Regions from separate parts of the Homo sapiens genome. Here regions 1, 3, 4 and 5 are each linked to region 2. The links come from fine-mapping of genetic effects on gene expression. A gene starts in region 2. Each other region holds a variant in brackets. All regions are shown on one strand. Distances are from middle to middle.

Region 1 (5,106 bases), 75 kb after region 2:
GTCTGAAGTTTTGGTTTGCTTGTTGTTTGTCTGTGATAGTATTTTCTGATAGAAGCTAAAATCCTGGTTGATGTCACAGAAAATTATTGGTTTATTATACCGTTAGTAATCATTTTAGTTTCTCAAAAAATCATTTGTTTAATTTCTATGTTAAACTCTGACACTTTCTTAGCTCAAGTTAAGGCAATCTGCATTCATTACAGTCATTCATTTATTTGAATGGTTGCAACCACTTTGAAGTTTCCATAAATTTGTAAGAATTTTTCAATGGAGACATAGTGAAACTCAGGTGAGATTTTCCTCATGATAATGGTTATAATCAAAACATATGGTATTTAAAAATAAGAAATAATGATATTTTATAAAATATTCATAATCATAACCCTCTTTTTTTTTAAATGGCTGATTGGTTTCAAAAATTACCTACTCTCTTCAGCTCAGCAACTACACTTGCTCAGCTGGGAGTTACGAGACTATACAGTTGTTTGTGGCTGGCACTCCTTTCTGATCAGCTGATCTGTGTAGCTGGATGGCCATGGAGTGTCACTTGTTAAATATTTTTAATATCCACCCCTGAGTGGACATAAATCAGGCCTTTTCAAACTGAATACTTGTAAAGTCTAGCTTTTCTTTGGTAGTTATAACTTAACCACTGTAAGGTATGTTGAGCTGCATATGTTCTTCACCTCAGTGCCTTTTAGCCCACCTCTCTAAGGGCTTAGCTGTCTCTGCTGTGCAACCAGTACTACATAGAAAGGTAACACACCATCAAGGAAGTAGCAGACTAGATAGAAGACAGAAACATGAACACATATGTAGTTATAAAGAGTGATGCATGTCGGCTGGGTGCGGTGGCTCATGCCTGTAATACTAGCACTTTGGGAGGCCAAGGCGGGTGGATCACAAGGTCAGGAGTTCAAGACCAGCCTGGCCAACATGGTGAATCCCCATCTCTACTAAAAATATAAAAATTCCCCGGGCGCAGTGGCAGGTGCCTGTATTCCCAGCTGCTCCAGAGGCTGAGGCAGCAGAATTGCTTGAACCCGGTGGGTGGAGGTTGCAGTGAGCTAAGATCGCGCCACTGCACTCCAGCCTGGGTGACAGAGCGAGACTCCGTCTCAACAACAACAACAAAAAAGGAGTGATGCATCTCACACAAAATAGCATCAGACATTTGCTAGGGAGTGGGGATATGAGGGTATGGTAAGTTTGCATAAACTTACTGGGCTAGGCCCAGTGCGGTGGCTCACGCCTGTAATCCCAGCACTTTGGGAGCCCGAGGCGGGCGGATCACGAGGTCAGGAGATCGAGACCATCCTGGTTAACCGGGTAAAACCCCGTCTCTACTAAAAATACAAAAAATTAGCCGGGCGTGGTGGTGGGCACCTATAGTCCCAGCTACTCAGGAGGCTGAGGCAGGAGAATGGCGTGAACCCGGGAGGCTTGCAGTGAGCGGAGATTGCGCCACTGCACTCCAGCCTGGGCGACAGAGCGAGACTCTGTCTCAAAAAAAAAAAAAAAAAGAAAAAAGAAAACGGAAACTGTGACAGTGATGTGGAGAATTGAGGTGGAGGGAGGGAAACAAGGCCAAGTTTGGAATGTAGAAGACCATTTGGTACGCTGTGACAATAATCCACATGAAACAGAATGAGATCCAAATTAAGGCAGTGTCATGGAAACAAATATGGAAGACATTTTCCATCCTGAATCAATTGAACTTCATGGCTGATGGAATGGGACGGTGACAAGGAAGGAGACTAAGATGGCTCCCCAGGTTCTGGCTAATGTGATTAGGTAGATGATGGTATTATACTGTGATAATGAGAGGAGGACCAAATTTGCCTGGGGGTTGGCTTGGAGGAAGAAAGAGATTTATCTTCCCCCATGAAGCCTTTCCTGATTGACCCAGCCAGAAAGACTGTCTTCCTCTTGAGGGATCTGAAAGCTCTGAGAGATTATATCATATCCAAAATAATACAACAAAAATCTAATGGCAAAATTGAAAAGTGGTGTAAGACTTTCAGCCTCTTCTTTGTGCTAGAAACTGTCTCGTTACTAATGTGTCAAGGACAGTGGGATATCCAGACTCCTGGGTGTGAACAAGTGGCTCCATTGTCTGTATTGAATTTAAAAACAACTAAAAGTTGATTTCCTTTTTTTTTTTTTGACACAGA[T/G]TTTCGCTCTTGTTGCCCAGGCTGGAGTGCAATGGCACGATCTCAGCTCACCGCAACCTCCGCCTCCTGGGTTCAAGCTATTCTCCTGCCTCAGCCTCCTGAGTAGCTGGGATTACAGGCATGCGCCACCATACCCAGCTAATTTTGTATTTTTTAATAGAGACAGGGTTTCTCCATGTTGGTTAGGCTGGTCTCAAACTCCCGACCTCTGGTGATCCGCCCGCCCTGGCCTCCCAAAGTGCTGGGATTACAGGCATGAGTCACCACGCCCGGCCGGTTTCCTTTTAATTATCACCACATACTAGCAAACATGAACAATGTCAGAGGTGAAATATTTACCCTTCAAAATATTTTTGGTCTAAGTTCTAAATACTATGGTTACTGTTGAGTTTTATGATATATATGTAAACTTCAAATTAGCACATTTGTAGTATATATCATTTGACAAACATTGCATTCTACTTGCAAGTTAACTCAGAGAACTTCCCAGTTATACAGCTGGCCTTGGACATATACCATTCAGCTACTTGTGTTCATTTTGATAGCAAATTTATAAAGTCCAGGATCACTCCAGTTTCCTCCAAGGACACTTTGTGTCCTCATCTCTGTGGTACTACATACTCCAGCCTTTCAACATTCAATTTTAAATAAACAATAATACCACAGAGAATGCTGAGACAAAGAAGCAGAACAGGAGCTGTTTCATTTTTGTCATTTGGTGCAAACTTCTTGAATTTTTATTTGTGTTTAAAATTTAAAACAGTGAAAAGGATACAAACTGTGATATATAAAATCTTCGGCTTGGCAACTTTATTTCATGCATAAAATGTTAGATTGATTAATATTTTTACAATTGAAATTTTTTTAATGTTGTTTTAAAACTAACTTTAGAAAATAAAACTTTAGTGTTACAATTTAGTAGTTACCTAAATTGTATCTTTGCAGAATTTCAGTTTTAATACAATCCATTTATTAGTTATTGGACAACTATTTACATAAACTATTATATCAGACTATAACTAAAGAATCAAAGTTCATACTGTTTAGGTGGATATAAAAATGATTGAATAAATACCTGTGCATTTTTCTTTTTTTGTATTTTAATTTTTTTAAAACATTTTTTCATTTGTATGGTTTTATACATGAAGTTCAGCACAAGAAAATATTCATTGTCTATATTTCTTTTCTGGCCATTTTATTACTTGTTTTATCTCATGATTATTTCTGAAAATATTTTTATGTATAGAGAAAGGGGTTGCTCAAATGATGTACTCTAGACCTAAAATAAAATATCATCGGTACCACCTGATCGTGGAATATATATACCACTAGTGGTTTTGATAAAAATTTTAAACATGAAAGAATTTCTAAACCTATAGTGACTTAACAAGGGATATTTCATTATATAAGAGCCTGGGGGGGAGTAGAAGTTTTTATTCTTTGTTTGTTGGTTTGTTTTTTGAGATGGACTCTCGCTCTGTCACCCAGGCTGGAGTGCAGTGGCGCGATCTAGGCTCATTGGAAGCTCCGCCTCGCGGGTTCACGCCATTCTCCTGCCTCAGTCTGCCGAGCAGCTGGGACTACAGGCTCCCGCCACCACGCCCGGCTAATTTTTTGTTTTGTATTTTTAGTAGAGACGGGGTTTCACCGTGTTAGCCGGGATGGTCTCTATCTCCTGACCTCGTGATCCACTCGCCTCGGCCTCCCAAAGTGCTGGGACCACAGGCGTGAGCCACCGTGCCCGGCCAGAAGTTTTTATTCTTTTACTGCATGTATTTATTTTAATCATTTTTAGCATTGAAAATTTCCTGTCATCAGATATGAATGCTTGAGAAAAACAGCAGAGATAATAAGAGCAGGAATAAAAATAACTGATGGTTCCGGCTACTTGGGAGGCTGAGGCAGGAGAATCGCTTGAACCCGGGGATGGAGGTTGCAGTGAACCGAGATCGCTCCATTGCACTCCAGCCTGGGCAACAAGAGCAAAACTCCGTCTCAAAAAATACATAAATAAAAAATGAAATCAAATAACTGATAATTGGAAGTTGAGTAACAGCCAAAAGCAACTGTGATAGTTATTCCTCTTCGGGAAATATTTATTTGATAAGACAAACTTTTGGGGGATAGCTTTGTGTGTCCTAAGTATCATAAGATGGATATGCATAATTCAGAACAGGCAGAAAAGGGGTGTTAACAAGCTTGTCAGATGGACAATTAGAATTGTGCTATTTGTCGGCCAGGCCGGTGGCTCACTCCTGTAATCCCAGCACTTTGTGAGGCAGAGGCGGGTGGATCACCTGAGGTCAGGAGTTCGAGATCAGCCTGGCTAACATGGCGAAACCCCGTCCCTACTAAAAATACAAAAATTAGCCGGGCGTGGTTGTGGGTGCCTGTAATCCCAGCCACCGGGGAGGCTGAGGCAGGAGAATCGCTTGAACCTGGGAGGCGGAGGCTGCAGTGAGCCGAAATTGCATCACTGTACTCCAGCCTGGGCAACAAGAGCGAGACTTCATCTCAAAAAAAATAAATTAATTAAAAAAAATAGAATTGTGCTATTTGTCTCAGTGTGTCATTTTTACACTACAAACATCAGTGTTAGCCTCTGAGAGATAGGAGGTATTATAATACCTTGTTTGTGCACAGAGGGAGTACTCTTGATTTCTAATGCCTGCTTGCAAGCCTACATTCATCATCGGTTCATTCCTCCATTCAAGAAAAATTCCTGTGCCAGTCAGTGTGGTTGTCAATGATCATTATCCTGCTGATAAGAATATTTAGGAACTGCAATGTTTCCATAATCCTATTGTGAATCAGTGATGCCACCAACACAAAAAGCTAGCTCTTTTCTCCACCCCTAACCCACTTTGCGCACTGCTCCGGAGCATACAGTCACAAAAGACAGAACTTGAAGTGATGTCTAATTGTGCCACTA
Region 2 (5,098 bases):
AATAAACTAAGTCTTGAGGACAAGGTCTATATCTTATGCACTTTGAACCTGCTGCTAATACTTAGCCTAGTGCCTGGCAGGTAAATGTTAACTGCAGTAGAGACTTGGGTACACATCTGACTCTCCAAGTAGTAGACCATTAAAGGTCATATCATGATTGTATGTGTCCTCAATTGTGGGGAAAAGAGAGATCAGATTGTTACTGTGTCTGTGTAGAAAGAAGTAGACATAGGAGACTCCATTTTGTTCTGCAATCTGTAACCTTACCCCCAACCCTGTGCTCCCTGAAACAGGTGCTGTGTCAACTCAGGGTTAAATGGATTAAGGGCTGTGCAAGATGTGCTTTGTTAAACAAATGCTTGAAGGCAGCATGCTCGTTAAGAGTCATCACCACTCCCTAATCTCAAGTACGCAGGGACACAAAACACTGTGGAAAGCCGCAGCGACCTCTGCCTAGGAAAGCCAGGTATTGTCCAAGGTTTCTCCCCATGTGATAGTCTGAAATATGGCCTCGTGGGAAGGGAAAGACCTGACCGTCCCCCAGCCCGACACCTGTAAAGGGTCTGTGCTGAGGAGGATTAGTAAAAGAGGAAGGAACGCCTCTTTGCAGTTGAGACAAGAGGAAGGCATCTGTCTCCTGCTCGTCCCTGGGCAATGGAATGTCTCGGAGTAAAACCCGATTGTATATTCCATCTACTGAGATAGGGGAAAACCGCCTTAGGGCTGGAGGTGGGACATGCGGGCAACAATACTGCTCTTTAAGGCATTGAAATGTTTATGTGTATACATATCTAAAGCAAAGCACTTAATTCTTTACCTTGTTTATGATGCAGAGACCTTTGTTCACGTGTTTACCTGTTGACCCTCTCTCCACTACTATCCTATGATCCTGCCACATCCCACTCTCCGAGAAACACCCAATAATGATCAATAAATACTAATGGAACTCAGAGGCTGGCAGAGATCCTCCGTGTGCTGAGCGCCGGTCCCCTGGGCCCCCTTTTTTCTTTCTCTATACTTTGTCTATGTCCCTTTCTTTTCCAAGTCTCTCGTTCCACCTAACGAGAAACACCCACAGATGTGGAGGGGCAACCCACCCCTTCACTCAATAACTAGTAAGAAGTACTCAATACAGTTTTGTGGAATTAAAGTGTTTGCTTAAATCCCTACATAAAAAAAGATTTCTTAAATACATACTTATCAAAGCTTATAATTTATACTGTTGATACAATATGACCGCACAATATAATGCTGACACCTTACCATTGATACAATAATTACAATAGTAAGTACCTCACAAATGCCAAGTGACCAAACAAATATATCCTTCTACTTCAAAATAAGGCGCAATTACACATTTTGCTATAGGTCCAGAAACACCTGTTGATTGAATTAACAGTCAAATGTTACGACTGGTTCTTCACCAAAGGGTTTGATTTTTGTATCTGATTGACTCACATTTCATCCATTATCAAACATTTTTTCTTGTTGAGGAATGCAAGGTTAAATAATCAAATTTAAATATGCTTTATCACTCACATGAAGCAAAAGGCATTATTATTTCCATGTTATATATAACAGAACCAAAGGCAAGAGAGAGATGTGTGATTAGATGGAAGTGCTCCATGCATATACCAAGTCTTAACTTACCTTCATTGGCAGAATACTTCACTAGTAAGATGCGACTTGAGCTTAAAGCAATGAATATGGCACCTAGCAGGAATGTATACATTGTTGACAAGGAGCATATTACAGGATGACTACAGCACTGTTTTTCCATTCCACTGTTTTTTAATTACCTTAAAGAGAAAAACACTTTCATGAACGACCTTGTTGGCAGACCCTAAACGCAAATACCATTGATCGTGAGGACAAAAAAGGAATTTTTAAAAAATTTTGGCTATGACTATATCAGCACCAAGAAAGTTGAGGCATAAAGAAACTATGACAAAAGGAAAGTGAAAATCTGATAAGAGGGAGTACTCTGGAGACAGAAAACGTAGAACCAGATTAGACCTGCTGACAAAGGTAGCAGGTGAGCAAATGACACTTTGCAACAGCAGAAAAGAATTCTTCAAAGCAATTTTGAATTTTATTTTTAAATTTTATTTATTTATGTATTTTGAGACGGAGTCTCGCTCTGTCACCCAGGCTGGAGTGCAACGGCGCGGTCTTGGCTCACTGCAACCCCTACCTACCGGACTCAAGCGATTCTCCTGCGTCAGCCTCCAGAATAGCTGGGACTACAAGCGCCCGCCACCACGCCCGGCTAATTTTTGTATTTTTAGTAGAGACGGGGTTTCACTATGTTGGCCAGGCTGGTCTCGAACTCCTGACTGTGATCCGCCCGCCTCTGCCTCCCAAAGTGCTGGGATTACAGGCGTGAGCCACCGCGCCCGGCCTCGCTTTTACTCTTATTAGTAAATAATTTTGCTGTAAGATAAGGCTTTCAGAATTGTATTTTCCTCCTCTTTTCCCTCGGAGGAAAAAGCTTATTAGGACAGACTTCATTACAATAACGACCAAAATGGAAATATCTGAAACACTGCTGTAAAGTTTTACTGAACTAGTTAGTGTTTGAAATGGAGGAGATCGTAGAAATCAATGAATCTAAGGCCCTCTTTTGATAGGCTGAGGACACTAAACCCCAGGTTGGGTAAGTAACTTGCCCAAAGCCTCCCAGCGTACTGTAGGAATAGCGCATAGAGCCTGCGGGGAGTGGGGAGAAATGCCAATACTGACAGCCCCATTGGGCGCACGCCTACAGGACGCCTCCCCGACAGGAGGGGGCCAGATTTCCCTTCACAGTCAGGGACTACCCTTCTAGTCACACATGCGCAGTAGGGCTCTTCACTGGCGCACCCTCCCCTCAGACGCAGGCGCAATTCCTTGCCCGCGGGGCGCGGTTACCTCCCTCAGAAGAGCTTCTAGTGGAAGAACGCACATCCTAGAGCTGAGACAGTAACTGTCTAGCCCCGTAGTAGCAGCAGTAGCCTTTAGGGTCCATACGTGGAGAAGCTACAGTAGGTATAGGCGAAAAAGCCCCTCCCTCTAAGCCGCCTATTGCAGAACAAAAACCACGATTACGTCCGGATTGGGAAAAAGCGGACCCGACACCCATTGCGCAGGCACGTTCAGTGTTACGCTTCCGGAAGGAGGGGAGAAGCGGCTTATCCCGCCCCAGCCCGGCCCCTTTCTCACGTCACGTGCCGGGAGAGTCTAGTGTCACGTGAGGCCCCGGTGGCGGCGCAGCTACGGCAAGAGAGTGAGAAGGAAGGGAAGCCGGAAGGGGCGCGAGTGAAGCAAAGCGAGGACAGACAGCTCGCAGAGGGCGAGGGGTGCGTGTGCGTCCGCTTCTCACCTCAGGTCTCCCTTCGGCCCCGCTGCCCTCCCTCGCGGCTGGGTGACAGCTGGGTCCGGTCCGTCGCGGGCTGCCTGGGGTGCGAGGATCGCGCACCCCGTCTTCGCGCGCTGTGCCTGCCGCCCCGCCCCCTCGTCCCGCCCGTCCCGTCGCGTCGCGTCCCGTCCCCTCGGGTGCTGCCAGCCGGGTGCTGATGCGAGTCGGTGGCAGCGAGGACATTTTCTGACTCCCTGGCCCCTGACACGGCTGCACTTTCCATCCCGTCGCGGGGCCGGCCGCTACTCCGGCCCCAGGATGCAGAATGTGATTAATACTGTGAAGGGAAAGGCACTGGAAGTGGCTGAGTACCTGACCCCGGTCCTCAAGGTAAGCCAGGCCAGGGTTGCCGGGAGCTGTCAGGCACATGCTCGACTTTTCAGGGACCAGGCGCCGCAGGAGTCCCCGCTTTCTCCGGCGGGGCAAGGTGTAGGAAGGCAGTAGGGCTCGAGACACAGGGAAGTGTGCAGCCCCCACCCGTAGTCTTAACCGGCTGTTCGTTAGGGCTTTCTGACTCCTCAGGGGTAAACTTGGAGCGACGCTCTGCGTGTTCCTGCCTTCTCCCGTCATAACTCTGCGCGGTCGGGTACGTCGGGTTGGAAGGGTGTTCGGAGGCTGAGTAGATTGAAGAACGTTAAATCCAAACACTGGAAGTCTTTTAGCCTTTTTAAGCAAGGATTTTGCTTCTCTTTAAAAAATGAATTTAGTGTTTGACACACAGAGGTCAAAAGAGACCTGAGGTGAGGTCACTTTTCCTTTAAGTTTCATGAAAGTCCGCTGTAGTGGGGAAGTTGTGACTGCGATCCCAACTCGTTTAGATTTCAGAGGAAGGAGGTGAAATTGGCAACATTATCTCATTCAGTAACCTTGAACCCATCTAACGAGCAAAACCTTTTTCCCAAGCTTTTCAGATAGCCGTAGCTGGTTATTAGTGATAACAAGGCACGGTTTGACCTTCCTGGCTGTATAATTTTTAAAAATATATTGGCAACAGTACAGCATTTTTAAAGTAAAAAATTGTGACACATTAGCTGTTACAGTAGTGACTGATTTTTTTTTTAAAGGTAAATTTCTACAACTGCCTTCAAGCTTTTCTTTTATAACTCTTTTGGAGTGTTTTGTTGTAACTTCATTTTTGCTTTCTGAAAAGTGAGCAAGAATAGTAAATTAATGGGAAGTTCTTGCTTAGTTTTTGTTTTTTTTTTCTAGTTGTTTTTAAGCTTTCAGTTAGAATGTACCAATCTCAGTGTGGGGGTGAAATACCTTAATATGCTAAGAATAGTGGAGAGTTTTGCTTTGCTCCCTTTCCATGACAAAGGGAAGTACTAGGTCTATACTTTTTAAAATACGTTTTTGTAAAGCTCCTTTTAAAAGAATAACTTATTGGCCAAGTAAGAAATAAACCAGCGATTATAAATGAGAATTTCAACTGTTGCTTTGCTTACATTTGTTTACTGTGAAAGTCATTTTAAGATTATTCAGTCAAACTAAGATTGGAAAATAATTTTCACATTTGAATCAAATGCTTTTACATAATTATGTTAACTTTTCAGAATATCATATCTACCTAGGTATACAGTATTTTAATAATACACCATTGTACAACTTTTTAGTTTCCGGGAGAGAGGAGCAAGAGACTGCCCAAATGAAATATAAAATGTATGATGTAGAATTATGTTTTCAGGAGTCCATCATACTTGC
Region 3 (5,106 bases), 180 kb after region 2:
TGAGACAAATTCTGTCATAACTGCCTATAACATTTTATCACTTGATTGGATAGATGAATACGCACAACCAGATTTGAATCTCTTTGCTTCCTAATTAGAATAAACACAGTAGTGTAAGATTTTATATTCTATGGCTTAGCAAACACGATTCCATTATTAATAGCTAGTATTCTGGTCTTATTATTTAAGCTGGGCAAGGCTGGAAGTGAGAACGTAAATTCAAGCAAAGTTCAGAGAAACCAGTTGTATGAGCTTCCTGTGGCTGCTGTAACAAAGTACCATGAACAAGGTTGTTTATTGTCTTGTAGGTCTGTAATATAGAAGTCTGAAATCAAGGTGTCAGCAGCACCATGCTCTCTTGAAATCTTTAGAAGAGGATCCTTCCTTGCCTCTTCCTAGCTTCTGGTGGTCCGCAGGCAATCTTTGGTGTTCCTTGGTTTGTATATGCATCGCTCTAGTCCTCCATCTTCACACGAAGTTCTTCTTGTGCCTCTGTGTCTTCACATGGCATCCTTTTTATAAGGATGTCAGTCATATTGGATAGCACCCTACTCCAGCATAATACCATCTTAACTTAATTACATCTGCGATGACCTGTCTCCAAATCAGGTCACATTCTGAGGAACCCAGGGTTTGGACTTCAACATATGTTTTTTGGAGGAAGCAGTTTGATCTCTAACGCCATGTTAAAATCAATGGACTGTAGATCCTGGTAATGTTAAGCAGTTTATCAACCTTGGCATTATTGACCTGTTGCACTGAATAATTCTTTGCACTGAATTATGTTTTGTACTGGAAAATTCAGGAGGTCTGTCCTGTATATTGGGAGATGTCACCAGCATCTTTGGCCTTTACCTGTTAGATGCCAGTAACACCCTCTTGGTGTGATAACCAAAAATGTCTTCAGACATCTCTAAATACCTGCTGGAGGGGTGGACATCAACATTGCCCTTAGTTGAAAACCACAGATGAAAGAAAAAGAATAAAGAAAGGCATACATAAAGGAAAGCCAGAGAGGAAGCGAACAGGAAAAATAGGAAATTTTCTTATGGCAATGGGAAGTGTGTAAATGAGGTAACAAAGGGGTATTAGTTTCTGTAAGAAAAAGATTAGGATATGATTATAGGAGTGAGGCAAGTGCCAGATGTAGGATGAGGACTGGGTTGGTAGAGGGGAAAAAGCCTGGGAATTAAAAGGATCATGTGTGTACACATTGATATATAGCGAATAATTTTATCACAGAAGTAGTTTTGGAGGCTGACTGTTAACCAGGAACTAAAATCTTCAAGAAATGTGGGAGGCAGGGGTGATCTGGGGAAGATGAATGACTATAACAAAGGGAAGGAGAAGGTAAAATATCTGATTATTTGAGATTCAAGCAAGTCCTTTTATGGAGTCAGAAAAGACAGCAGCCTAGAAGTGGCAATGGGGGACAAAAAGGACATCCCTTCCCCCCATGCATATGTCTGCATCCAGTGATACAAGAAAGGCAAAACCACTGCAGGGGGCTGCAGGGGATACTGTCCTCCAGGGGCACCAAGTTCAGTTAGTGCAAGAAGAGGTGGAAGGGAACTTTTAGGAAAAAACTTGAGGCCACAGAGAAGTTTGCTGATTATTGGAGTTCCAGGGAACAGAGTTGGAGGAGTTCAGTGGTTGAGGACTGATCAAAAACAGGAATTAACAGAGCCTTATCAAAATGAGTGTAAGGAGGAATGAGCAATTTCCTAAGAATCAGTCCTTGGTTTCTTGCAATGACTGATGTAAATATGGATAAAGACATATTAGATAATGGTGACAAAGCTGGTGTTTTTGAGAGATGAGGGAGGAGGGATCTTGTCAGGAGCATGCAAAGTTTGAGGGCTCTCTCTTAATCTTTGATGGTGGATTTTTCAGGGTCATTTTTCACTGGGCCCTGAATGGCAGCTTAGAGGAAAGCAGTTTTCTGCCAGCAAGATATTTAAAAAAGAAAGAAAAAAGCTTGAGTGTTGGAACCTGAACCCTCTGAGTTTGTATGCCAGCTCTCAGCTCTGCTACAAAGAAGAAGGGAGATGTCTTGTCTTTTTTTTTTTTTTTTTTTTTTTTCTGAGATGGAGTCTTGCTTTGCTACCCAGGCTGCCATGTAGTGGCTCCATCTCAGCTCACTGCAACCTCCGCCTCCTGGGTTCAAGCAATTCTCGTGCCTCAGCCACCGGAGTAGCTGGAGTACCTGGGATTACAGGTGTGCATCACCAAGCCCGGCTAGTTTTTGTATTTTCTAGTAGAGACGGGGTTTTGTCATTTGGCAAGACTGGTCTCGAACTTTATTTTTAACAAAAAAGTTACTGAAATATATACTGAACTGTCTGCTGAGTTGTACAGACATTAATAACTCAGTCACATTTTAAATCAATGTTTTTTGCACTTTCACATAACCC[A/G]TGGGGAGAAATACCTTTTATGGCATAATCCAAAGTACATATTTGTGAGCATTTTATTAATGAATACTTGCCCTTATTGCATGTTATGCACACTGGTAATTTATTTATCATATTATTATTTTGTATGAGACAGGGTCTTGCTCTGTCACCCAGGCTGGAATGCATTGGTGCAATCATGGCTCACTGCATCCTGGACCTCCTGGGCTCAAGAGATCCTTTCACTTCAGTCTCCCAAGTAGTTCAGACTGCAGACATGTAGTCACTTCATCCTCTCCATTCACATGATTTACACTTTGTAACTTCACATTCATCCTCTCCATTTACCTAGATCACACGCATCAGGTAACATCCTCTCTATTTACAATATGGCACATACTGAGTAAATGACTCTGTGACTTCACTTCATTCTCTTCATTTACATAGAATATATGCCAAGTAACCAATGGGAAACCTCTAGAGTATTGAAACCCCAGAATATTCTGTAAGTGGGGCTCTTGAGCCCCTATGCTCGGCCCGCTCCCACACTGTGGAGTGTATTTTCATTCTCAATAAATCCCTGCCCTTGCTTTCCTCGCTTTGTTTGTGTGTTTTGTCCAATTCTTTGTTCCAGATGCCAAGAACCTGGATACCTTCTACTGGTAACACTGCTGTTTTTTATATTGTTTCAAATAGAAACAATTAAGTTCATCTCATGATACCAATTTTGAAGCAACTTTATTCTACAAACATACATTGAGCACCTTCTCTCAGCCTAGTTCTGATGGTTATTTCAAATTTAAAGAATAATGTAGATTCTGTACCACAGGCCACTGGGGAAAACAAATACATAAATACTTACCAAATAAAGCATTACAATAGAAATCTGTCAAAGTGCTGTTGGATCTTAGCCTAGAAAATCTGAGAACATCCTTCAAAAGGAGAGGACAATTAAACCTTGCTTCAAGATGGAGTAGGACTTGTGTATACAGAGAAAATGTGCTATGAAGATATAAATTGTGTTCCAGGTGGTTATTTCTTAGGCTAAGACACGTACAGAATTTGGTTTATACAAATAGTGCTTTACCACTTTTCTTCTGAAATTTAATCAATCTCATTTATCATCTTTCTTGGATTTTAGAAAAAATATTTCATTTCTGTAGAATTGTCCTGCTGTTGGCTGCCTAACTATAGCCAAAGAAGTGACAAACTAAAGAACTTTCTGGAAGTAATTTCACAGAAAATACCAAGTAAAGCACATACTAATTTGGGTAAGATTTAATCTGCCTGCCAGGAGTATTCATCATGTGGATTGTGCTGTGGTTACAAAGAACACCAAAACTGTTTCCGCACTCAAGATGCGTGCATGTGCTGGGAAGGGGAACAGACAAATTAAAGAAGAAGACAGGCAGTAAGTAGTGTGTAGAGCCATGAGAGGGGATCTTCTGACTCTGGGAAACGGTAGAGTTGGTCTCAGAGAAAGCACTCTGGAGAGGAAGAAGGGGCACCTGAAATCTAGATATGTGTTAATTTACTTAGTTCAGCAGTTGCAGATTCAAGCTCTATGAGAGGTCAGGGAGGTAACCGAGATGAGTGTAACACCCTGTGGACAAGATAAGATGTGGTGGGGTCTTGGCAAACCAAGCATCATAGCCAGTCTACGGGAAGCAGTGGGCAGTCCTCTGGCCGAGTGTATGAGTCTGTTTTCACGCTGCTGATAAAGACATACCTGAGACTGGGAATAAAAAGAGGTTTAATTGGACTTAACAGTTTCACATGGCTGGGGAGGCCTCAGAATCATGGCAGAGGCTAAAGGTACTTCTTAAATGGCAGTGGCAAGAGAAAATGAGGAAGATGCAAAAGCAGAAACCCCCGATAAAACCATCAGATCTCGTGAGACTTATTCACTATCATGAGAACAGTGTGGGGAAAACTACCCCAGTGATTCAAATTATCTCTCACTGGGTCCCTCCCACAACACATGGGAATTATGGGAGTACAATTCAAGATGAAATTTGGGTCGGGACACAGAGCCAAACCATATCATTCTGCCCTTGGCCCCTCCAAATCTTATGCCCTCACATTTCAAAACAAATCATGCGTTCCAACAGTTCCCCAAAGTCTTAACTCATTTCAACATTACCCAAAAGTCCACAGTCTAAAGTCTCATCTGAGACAAGGCAAGCTCCTTCCATCTATGAGCCTACAAAATCAAAAGCAAACCAGTTACTTCCTAGATACAATGGAAGGTATGGGGTAAATACAGCTGTTCCAAATGAGATAAATTGTACAAAATAAAGGGGTTACAGGGCCCATGCAAGTCCAAAATCCATTGGGGCAGTCAGATTTTAAATCTCTAAAATGATCTCCTTTGATTCCAGGTCTCACATCGAGGTCACGCTGATGAAAAAGGTGGGTTCCCATGATCTTGGGCAGCTCCACCCCTGTGGCTTTGCAGGGTACACCCTCCCTCCCAGCTACTTTCACAGGCTGGCATTGTGTGTCTGTGGCTTTTCTAGGCAAACGGTGCAAGCTATTGGTGGATCTATCATTCTGGGGTCTGGAGGACAATGGCTCTCTTCTCACAACTCCACTAGGTGGTGGCCCAGTAGGGACTCTGTGTGGGGCTCTGACCCCACATTTCCCTTCTGCACTGCCCTAGCAGAGGTTCTCCATGAGTGCCCTGCCCCTGCAGCAAACTTCTGCCTGGGCATCC
Region 4 (5,106 bases), 40 kb before region 2:
GTATCCTTCCCCAATGTGGTCCATGGTGATTGTGTACGATTTAATTGATTCGATGCAACTTCGGAGACAGGAAATGGCGATTCAGCAGTCACTGGGGATGCGCTGCCCAGAAGATGAGTATGCAGGCTATGGTTACCATAGTTACCACCAAGGATACCAGGATGGTTACCAGGATGACTACCGTCATCATGAGAGTTATCACCATGGATACCCTTACTGAGCAGAAATATGTAACCTTAGACTCAGCCAGTTTCCTCTGCAGCTGCTAAAACTACATGTGGCCAGCTCCATTCTTCCACACTGCGTACTACATTTCCTGCCTTTTTCTTTCAGTGTTTTTCTAAGACTAAATAAATAGCAAACTTTCACCTATTCATGAGTTATTATTGAAACCTCAAATCATAAAGACATTTAAAAGAATTGTTTTTCTAACTGGAGGGGCTCTAGTGCTAAATAATAGTACTGAAAATTGATATTATTTTCCTTTTCTTATATGAAGGACCTTATTTGGCATATAAAATTTTATAAAATATGTATTTAAAGCTTTTTCTTATTTTTTGTATTAATTGGTAAGTGAAAACTCTGTTAAAGATCACACCACAATGTTTTCAAGAAACATCTGAAAAGATAAAACAAAGAACAAATAACTTATAATACTTACTTAAATTGACACTTTTTGAAATGCCAGTCTGAAAATAATTAAGATATCTCTGCTTTGTATGAGTTTCTTTTATGAAACTTGATACCACGGGAGTCCAGTAATATTGGCCACAAAAGCCAGAGAAAGTACCAAGCCCAGCTTTGTTATCATAGCCACTTCCTGCCCTGCTTCTGTTATTTTTAGTGTTTTTTCAGATATAAATCGGGGTCCAGGAAATCCTCACCAGAATCTGGCACTGCAGCCAAAGGCGATACTTCCAGAGTTCTAGTAGGCTGCTATGGAATTTCTGGCATGAAAATTCTTGACCCCTCACACTTTACCCCCTGTACAGCACAGGCATACCATGGAGATATTACAGGATCAGTTCCAGACCACCATAATAAAGTGGATATCGCAATAAAGTGAGTCACACAAAATTTTTGGTTTCTCAGTGCATATAAAAGTTATGTTTACACTCTTTAGTAGTCTATTAAGTGTATAATAGCTTTATGTCCAAAAAATGTACATGTTTTATTTTAAAAATACTTTATTGCTAAAAATTGCTAATGATCATAATCTTTTTGCATTGATGTTGATGGCTGCTGAATGATCAGGGTGGTGGTTACTGAAGGTTGGGGGTGATGGTGGCAATTTCTTAAAATAAGACAGCAATGAAGTTTGCCACTTCGATTGACTTTTTCTTCATGAAAGATTTCTCTGCAGCATGTGATGCTGTATGATAGCATTTTACCAGTAGTACAACTTCTTTTGAAATTGGAGCCAATCCTCTCAAACCCTGTTGCTGCTTTATTAATGAAATTTATGTAATGTTGTAAATCCTTTGTTGTCATTTCAATAATGTACATAGCAACTTACGCGAGTAGATTCCATCTCAAGAAATCACTTTCTTCGTTCATTCATAAGAAGCAAGTCTTCATCTATTAAACTTTTGTAATGAGATTGCAGCAATTCAGTCACATCTTCAGGCTCCACTTCTAATTCCAGTTCTCTTGCTATTTCCACTATGTCTATAGCAGAGCTTCCTCCAATGAAGTCTTGGGCCTCTTAAAATCATCCATGAGGGATGGAATCAGTTTCCGAACTCATTGATCTTCCTATTTTGACCTTCTCCCATGAATCACGATGTTCTTAACAGCATCTAGAATGGTGAATCCTTTCCAGGTTTTTAATTTGCTTTGCCCAGATCCATTAGCGGGATCACAATCTGTGACAGTTATAGTCTTACGAAAAGTGCAAATGACTCCTTGATTCCTGTGCTGCACAATAGGTATTGTGTTAGCAGGCACGAAAA[T/C]ATTAATCTCCTTGTATATCTCTATCCAAGTTCTTGGGTGACTGGGTATATTGTCAGTGAACAGCTATATATATATATATTATAGTGGTCTGGAACTGATCATTTATATATATATTTTATATACATATATAAAATATATAATATATATTATATATATATATATTTTTTTCGAGATGGAGTCTCGCTCTGTCACCCAGGCTGGAGTGCAGTGGTGCGATCTTGGCTCACTGCAACCTCTGCCTCCGGGGTTCAAGTGATTCTCCTGCCTCAGACCCCTGAGTAGCTGGATTTACAGGCGCCCACCACTACACCCAGCTTATTTTTGTATTTTTAGTAGAGATGGGGTTTCACCATGTTAGTCAGGGTGGTCTCGAACTACTGACTTTGGCCTCGGCCTCCCAAAGTGCTGGGATTACAGGCATGAGCCACTGCGCCCGGCCCGAACAGCAATATTTTTAAAAGATTCTTTTTTTTTCTGAGCAGTAAGACTCAAAAAGTGAGCTTAAAATGTCCAGTAAACCATGCTGTCCATAGACATGCTGTCATTCAGGCTTTGTTGCTCCATTTATAGAGCACAGGCAGATTAGATTTAGCATAATTCTGAAAAGTCGTAGGATTTGGGGAAATGGTAAATGAGCATTGATTTCAACTTAAAATCACCAGCTGCGTTAACTTCTAACAAGGAGTAAGCCTGTTGGTTGAAGCTTTGAAGTGAGGCATTGACTACTCCTCTCTAGATACGTAAGTCTGAGATGGCATCTTCTTCCAATATAAGGCTGTTTCATCTCTTTTGAAAATCTATTGTTTAGTGTAGCCACTTTCATTAATTATCTTAACTAGATCTTCTGGATAACTTACTGCAGCTTCTACATCAACATTTGCTGCTTTACTTTGCACTTTTATGGATGCACAAGGCTTCTTTTCTTCAAACTCATGAACCAGACTCTGCTACCTTCAAACTTTTTTTCTGAAGCTTCCTCACCTCCCTTTAGCTTTCATAGAATTGAAGAGAGTTAGGGCCTTGCTCTGAACTAGGCTTTGGCTTAAGGGAATTTTGTGGCTGGCTTGATCTTCTATTCAGATGACTCAAAGTTTCTCCATATCAGCAGTAAGGCTGTTTTACTTTTTTATCATTCATGCATTCACAAAGTAGCACTTTTAATTTCCTTCAAGAACTTTTCCTTTGCATTTACAACTTGGTTGTTTGGCATAAGAGGCTTAGCTTTCAGCCTGTCTCAGCTTTTGACACACCTTCCTCACTAAGCTTATTCATTTCTAGCTTTTGATTTAAAGTGAAAGATTGCAACTTCCTCTCACTTGAAATACCTGGAGGCTATTTTAGGGTTATTAATTGATCTACTTTCAATATTGTGTCTCAGGGACTAAGGAGGCCTGAGAAGAAGGAGAAAGATTGGAGAAAGGTTGGTTGTTGGAGCAATCAGAACATACACACATTTATTAAGTTTACTGTGTTATATAAGTGTGGTTCATGGTGCCCCCAGTAATTATAATAGCAACATCAAAGATCGTTGACTACAGATTTTAATAACAGAGATAATAATGAAACAGTGTGAAATATGGCAAGAATTACCAAAATGTGACACAGAGACATAAAGTGAGTACATACTATTGCAAAAATGATGTCAACAGACTTCCTTGATGCAGGGTTGCCACAAACCTTCAATTTGTAAAAAATGCAGTATCTGAGAAGTATAATAAAATAAGATGTGCCTGTACTTACTTGCTAATGGACCTATTACCATACTGGCATCTTATAAAAAAAATTACAAGGAAGGAGATTATATCCAGGGATTCTTTTTGTTTTCAAGGCAAAGGTTACCAAGTTACAATGGACCAAAGTAGCTGGAATGCAAAGGAGTATAATCCTTGTCTTTGAAAAAAGAGCATTTGTTTCAATCATATGGCATATCAAAGTAAACTTTCTCCCTTCCTCCCTCCTTTCGTTGCTGCTGCTTCTTTTTTTTCTCTTTTTTTTTTTCTTTTTTTGGAGAGGGTCTCACTCTGTCACCCAGGCTGCAGTGCAGTAGTGCAATCTTGGCTCACTGCAAACTCAGCTTCCCTCAAACAATCCTCCCACCTCAGCATCCCAAGTTAGCTGGGACCACAGCCATGCTCCACCATGCCCAGCCATCCTTGCTTCTTTACTACATTTCTTTTTTCAACAAATATTTATCAAGTAATATTGTCAAGTAATATTTATGAGCTTCCCCTCAGATAGGCATTTAGCATCATGATGGCACCATCCTCTAACAATAATGGGAAGGCTATTTTCCACTGTTATTAATCATTAATTCTCCAAATCATTTTAGTATTATTATTAATTCTAATAAGTACAGAGATTAATAAATGCATTCAAACCACATGTGAATATTTGCTATAGGTTTATCTGTGCCTACTGTATGTTCAGATTTTTCTTTATATCTGAACTTTGTTATAAATAAATGACAGTAAAAATGGAATTTATAGTTCAATGAACTTGACAAATCACTTATTCTGCCATTCATTTTCCATAAAGACCATTCATTCTTCCTTGTTTTACAGGTAACTGAGCTCCAGAAAGCTCAAGTGACTTTAGAACTCAGTTCTTAGTGTGTGAATTATGCTCCCATCTCATCCCTCTTCCTTGATGGAGCACTTTCCTCCTCATTTTTTCTTGGATAGTCTGTACAAGCTGCCTGAGGTGTGCAGGAAAGTGAGCCACGTCGAAGTGTACTGCTTTTAAATTTTTGCCAGGATGAAGCATAGCCCAAAGTTGCCAATAAAAATGGATTTCTTTACCTTTCTGAAATTGTGTGATGACAATTTCTAAGTAAAGGACCCAAATCATGTCAACTTCAGGAAATATAATAATGAGGGAGCCAGGAGCAGTGAGGGGCTCACACCTGTAATCCCAGCACTTTGGGAGGCCAAGGTGAGCGGGTCGCTTGAGCCCAGGACTTCGAGACCAGCCTGGGCAACACGGCAAAACCCTGTCTCTACAAAAAAATACAAAAAATTAGCTGGGTAAGGTGGTGTGTGTCTGTGGTCCCAGCTATTCAGGAGGCTGAAGTGAGAGAATCGCTTGAGCCTAGGAGGTCGAGGCTTCAGTGTGCCGTGATCGTGCCACAGCACTCCATCATCATCATCCTGGGTG
Region 5 (5,106 bases), 90 kb after region 2:
CTGTTCTAGGGATCAAGTTGGGGCTGAGATTAGGATCAACAATCTATCTATTTTGTGGAGGAAAGAACCCAACTTTAGGGGAAAGGGAATAACATTCCCTCCTAAATCCTGTGCCTTGGGGGGTTTTATGGAACAAAGTATGTGAAGTATGAAGTGGTGAAAGAGAAAGTCTAAGAGCTAAATAGGAGACATGAAGGGCCTTGTCAGTTTCTTTTTGAACATTTCTACTCTCTTAGTTTCCTACTCACCTATCCTTCCTATCACTCCCTTCCTTATCAGTTTGTTAATTAATGCTCTTGATCCTCATGGAAAATCCCAGAGAATTTTCTTTGGCTTCCTACTCTTGTCTCTCCACAACATTCCACTCTGTGATGTGTTTCCTCCAATTGCTTCTATAAGCATCTCGCACCATCATTATCTTCCTTCTAAATAATTCCAATTAATTCTATGATTGGACTCTTTGTCTTTAGTATTTCCCCATTTTGGTCAATTTCAGCCAAATACACTTAAATTACCTCATACACTTCCTTCATAACAACACTCTCTTGCATAGCATCCCCAGTGGTCACAATATTGGGCTCATCTTTGTTAACCAGCATTCAAAGTCTTCCACAGTTTGATCCCACCACCTTTCTAGATTGTTTCTGGATTCCATATACAGCCTCTCAATTGCAGCCTGACGGCCTTACTTGCCATAACCACATCTCCATCATTGCCCTGTGTATGCTGCTCTTGCCACTTGTAGAGCACCCATTCATCTGTCTCCACCTATGGAAATTCTACCCCTCCTTTCAATCTCAGCTAATTTTCCAAGTTCTTAAGGAAGCTTTTCATGATCACCTGAGGGGAAGGGATCACTCCTTTTTACCAATTTTTATGCCATTTAAGTCTGTGCCTCTCATTTATCATTTCCTTTCACTGTAGTAATGTGTGGAAATGTCTTTTAGGTCCCATGAAAGATTATAATGTCCTGGAAGGCTGGAATTTGTGTAATATTTCTTTTTTTTTTTTCTTTTAACTTCCTTCACAAAAGGTAAATTGTTTAGGAATTAACTTTAATTTAAACTCTGTGTGGATTTAAAACTAATTTAATCTAGGTGTGCATTTTTCTTTAGTGAAGTGGTGAAAACAAAAATAACAGGGAGGGTCAAAGAAAAATTCCTTTTCCTTCTGAACCTGAAAGTGCTCAGTGAACTAAGTATAAGGTGAGGAGAAAAATATATTTTGGAAATATGTTTAAGGACCATGCTTTTCATAAAGAAATTTTGGAGGTCTGATAAAAAATATTTTATTTTTTCCTGTGAAATATATTTCCGAAGTGATTTTGGACATTTTCTTGTTTTTATAAGTGACTTTCTTTTGCTGTTTATGTTCAAGTTAAAAGTTCATGTAAGAACAGGACTGTGACAGAGTTGGGGCTTGGATGCTCTTGGGAAAGCACTATTCTCCCAGAATGAAGAAAAGCACCTTGCACAACAAGCCAAAGTCCTAGGGGAAAAGTTGACAGAGCTGGGGAACAGCCCTTGAAACATCCATTGGCCTGCCACTTCACCCTTCCCAAACTTCCCTTGGTCAGTTTCAGATTAAGAACTTCCCCAAGGCTGGGCGTGGTGGCTCACATCTGTAATCCTAGCACTTTGGGAGGCCAAGACGAACAAATCACTTGAGGTCAGGAGTTTGAGATCAGCCTGGTCAACATGGTGAAACCCTATCTCTACTAAAAATACAAAAAATAAACTGGGCACGGTGGGAGGCGCCTGTAATCCCAACTACTCAGGAGGCTGAAGCAGGAGAATCACTTGAACCCAGGAGGTGGAGGCTGCAGTGAACCGAGATTGCACCACTGCACTCCAGCCTGGGTGATAGAGCGAGACTCCATCTCAAAAAAAAAAAAAAAAAAAAAGAAGAAGAAAAAAAGAACTTCCCCAAAATGTGATCATTATCTGTGGCAGGAAAGTGGGTGTGGAGTGAGAGGGCAGGAAGTCCTTGTGGGCTTCCACCCTGATTTGGAGCACCTGCTGAATGTGCCTCTTCTTATTCCAGGTGCCAGAGATATCATTGTGCAGACTATACTGTGTCCTTATGCTTAAGGAATGGGGAAGAGGTGATCAAAGCAGACAGACAAAGATTGCGTTGTATTTACAGTCTTTCAGTGAGCTTCAAAATAAGCCCAGATATTTACTTTGTGTCAATGATCGTGGGGTTGATGTTCCACAAATTGTGCTTACTGATCTTGAGATAGATTGTTGGATTCTCTGGTAGTGTGCAAACACTGGAATCCTCCCCAAGGCTAGCTCTGGTTTTGGACACGTGAGAGTACACCCTCATCATTTTCTCAATCAATTTCAGTTATTTACCTTGTTTCTCTATTTCAGAACAAACTCAAAATAAGTTAGGGGGAGTTTTGAGTTTGTTCTGAAATAGAGAAACAGTTTGTTCTGAATTAGTTTTATTTGATCAAACTAATCAAGTAAAATTAAGGAAATTAGGTTTTTTTGGTGGTTAAAGAAATAACAGAAGTTGGATCTTCTTGATCCAGCAGATCTGTTTGTATTAGGGTATCTGTTGTAGAAACCTTAGTCCCCATTGCTATCCAAGACCCTCCCCCAGGCAGCTGTTTCTGGCACTCCTGGCAGTGGTTTGGCTGCTCGCTAACCTAAACAGCAGCTGCAACATCAATAGACAACATTTGTTACCACTCTGAATAACCAAACCACTTTTTGTGCAACTTCAGTTGCCTCTAATCATTTTTACCCCAAACCTAAGCATCTAGCCAAACAAAATAACATTATAATATAATTAATAGAATTTTTTTTTTGTTTGAGATGGAGTCTTACTCTGTCACCCAGGCTGAGTGCAGTGGTACCATCTCGGTTCACCGAAGTCTCCACCTACCGAGTTCAAGCGATTCTCCTGTCTCAGCCTCCCATGTACCTGGGATTACAGGTGCATACCACGCCCAGCTAATTTTTGTATTTTTAGTAGAGACGGGGTTTCACCATTTTGGCCATGCTGGTCTCGAACTCCTGATCTCAAGTGATCCGCCTACCTCGGCCTCCCAAAGTGCTGAGATTACAGGTGTGAGCCACCAGGCCAGACCTTAGAATATCTTACTCCAGTATTTTTCATACTGTGTTAACTGTAACCCAAAATTAAAAAAAA[C/A]AACAACAACAACAACAACCAGATCTTACATCACAACCCATAATGCACACAAATATAAAAAAGTTTCATAAGGTCATACTTAACCATAAGACAGAGTTTCTCCATTGACACTTTGGTCTGGATAATGTTTTGTTGCACTAAGTGGGGGTTGCATCCTGTATAGTGTAGGGTGTTTAGCAGAATCCCCGGCTTCTACTCACTGGTTGCCAGCCTCCCTCCCCCTACCTTGTTACAGCCAAAAATGTCTCCAGACATTGCCACACATGTTCCCTGCTTGAGAACCACTGCTCTAGTGTGTGTGATGCATTCTGATGATTTCTATCCTCTTCTGTTTCATTTTTTAAAATGCTATTTGTGACATACTAAATTGTTTCACAACCTGCTAATGAGCTGTGAACAACTGCAGACAAACAGGGCCTCAATGCGTATTAACATTGATCAATAGTAATGCGCATTAGCTGTGTGCCATGCAGAGCACTTTTAAGGCTATCAAAAGTATTTGATATTTGGAGATTCTGATAAGTTACGAGACAAGGAAAGGACATTGTGTTGAAGAAACTTGAATTTCCTGTTACAAACATGTTGGCTTGAGTTCCCATTGCCACTCACTAGCTATCTGACTTGGAGCAACTCTTGGGACAAAATAAAGACAATGGTTTTCCTACTTAAGTGATGAATATGAGAGTTAGATACTGTAAATAGAAAGGCTTAATGAAGTACCTTCTGACAGTTATCATGAAGATTGTTCTGTGGAAGATTAACTCTATCAGAATAAAGAATTTCTGCAAAAGATAAATTATCGCAGAGCCACGTCTGCTCAGCAAGAAAGCAAGAGGTGGCTGAGGGCACTGGGATTCTTGAGGAATGCCTCTGAAGGGGAAATGGAGGCATTGGCCTGAAATCTCCTTCACTCAAGTTCTGACAATGCAGAGGGGTGCCGCTGATCCCAATATATCTCAGATTTCCTAACTCTCTTTAGCATTTACTAACATTCCAGATGTAAAAAGTGCCTCAGAACGACCCTCCAAGGACGAAATGGCAAGCAGACCCTGGCTCCTGTATCGTTTACTTCCTTTGGGGGGATTGCCTCTACTCATCACTACCTGTTTCTGCCTGTTCTGCTGCCTGAGAAGGCACCAAGGTGGGTTCTATTTTCCCTCTGCCCCCAGTACCACACATTTGGGGCCATTCTTATTTCTGGGGCTAAAGGATTTTTAGTTTCTTCCTGTTGTTTTCTTTCCCAATCCTGTAAACCATGGATAATGATTTCCTAGAAGACAACTCATATTTGCGCTAAAAAGCTAAATAGGTTGGTTGGGGCTCCCTTGAGTCACGGGAGAGGCATGCTCACCACGCACAGTATTCCAGCTAGAGTTGTGGCGAGCATAGCACATTGCTGAGACTTCATCATTCTCTTTGCATCAATCTTAGGTTTGTGTGAGAAAGAGCTCTTCTAAACCTTAACAGGATTGGAAGTTGAAACAATCTCTCAGATCAAGATATCTGCTTTATTTTGTATTATCCTCTTTTCACAGCCACACCACATCATGCCAATCCCACACACACCCTTATGTAACTGAAGAACCAATGTCCCCAGAGAAAATTAATATGTCTGTATTTTCTATTGCCATTATAAACATATGCTTGACCTGAATTCTTACCCAACAATAATGCATATGAAAAATGTGGGTTTGGCTATGATGGGAATGGTGTGATATTTTGAAAATAATTCCTTTCTACTTTTGCAAGAACTCTCTCAATGTCATGACCAAATATGTTAAGTAAGAGAGGAAAGCATAGAGAATTCTGATCTAGCTTTGGCCTGAACTACTTCAGTTTTCTCTTTCCTTTTTCTTCTCCTCCATCCTCTCACATTCCTGTTTTCACAACACCAGCTACAGTGTAGCTATAGAAACTGAGCTAGATAGAGCAACACTTATTCTG

What was found. PIP is the estimated chance that this variant, and not a neighbour inherited with it, causes the effect.
Region 1: its variant is fine-mapped to the expression of SLC35A5 in fibroblasts (GTEx, PIP above 0.99). The same link has a PIP of 0.9 or more in esophagus mucosa, ileum, lung, pancreas, spleen and subcutaneous fat.
Region 3: its variant is fine-mapped to the expression of SLC35A5 in sigmoid colon (GTEx, PIP 0.99).
Region 4: its variant is fine-mapped to the expression of SLC35A5 in tibial artery (GTEx, PIP 0.97). The same link has a PIP of 0.9 or more in esophagus muscle.
Region 5: its variant is fine-mapped to the expression of SLC35A5 in thyroid (GTEx, PIP 0.98).

The regions. Positions count from the first base shown.
Region 1 is chr3:112,484,646-112,489,751 of GRCh38, reverse strand. All of the region lies in intron 1 of BTLA (B and T lymphocyte associated), which reads left to right. Among named protein-coding and RNA genes, the nearest start is that of BTLA, 12 kb to the left of the region's middle. The variant T/G (reference allele first, on the strand shown) is at 2,175.
Region 2 is chr3:112,560,086-112,565,183 of GRCh38, reverse strand. It overlaps SLC35A5 (solute carrier family 35 member A5), which reads right to left and starts at 3,139. Exons shown (of 7, transcript NM_017945.5): 1 at 2,911-3,139; 2 at 1,651-1,799. The coding sequence starts at 1,780. ATG3 (autophagy related 3) reads left to right here and starts at 3,222. Exons shown (of 12, transcript NM_022488.5): 1 at 3,222-3,727. The coding sequence starts at 3,656. RefSeq lists enhancers at 1-410, 411-1,220, 2,841-3,650, 3,651-4,460.
Region 3 is chr3:112,381,602-112,386,707 of GRCh38, reverse strand. LOC105374041 (a long non-coding RNA gene) reads left to right here. Exons shown (of 4, transcript XR_924334.3): 2 at 4,772-4,802. Among named protein-coding and RNA genes, the nearest start is that of CD200, 51 kb to the right of the region's middle. The variant A/G (reference allele first, on the strand shown) is at 2,415.
Region 4 is chr3:112,600,531-112,605,636 of GRCh38, reverse strand. It overlaps CCDC80 (coiled-coil domain containing 80), which reads left to right. Exons shown (of 8, transcript NM_199511.3): 8 at 1-5,106. The coding sequence ends at 220. Among named protein-coding and RNA genes, the nearest start is that of CCDC80, 38 kb to the left of the region's middle. RefSeq lists an enhancer at 1,580-1,749. The variant T/C (reference allele first, on the strand shown) is at 1,953.
Region 5 is chr3:112,470,409-112,475,514 of GRCh38, reverse strand. It overlaps BTLA (B and T lymphocyte associated), which reads left to right. Exons shown (of 5, transcript NM_181780.4): 3 at 4,160-4,303. Among named protein-coding and RNA genes, the nearest start is that of BTLA, 27 kb to the left of the region's middle. RefSeq lists an enhancer at 1,351-1,851. The variant C/A (reference allele first, on the strand shown) is at 3,163.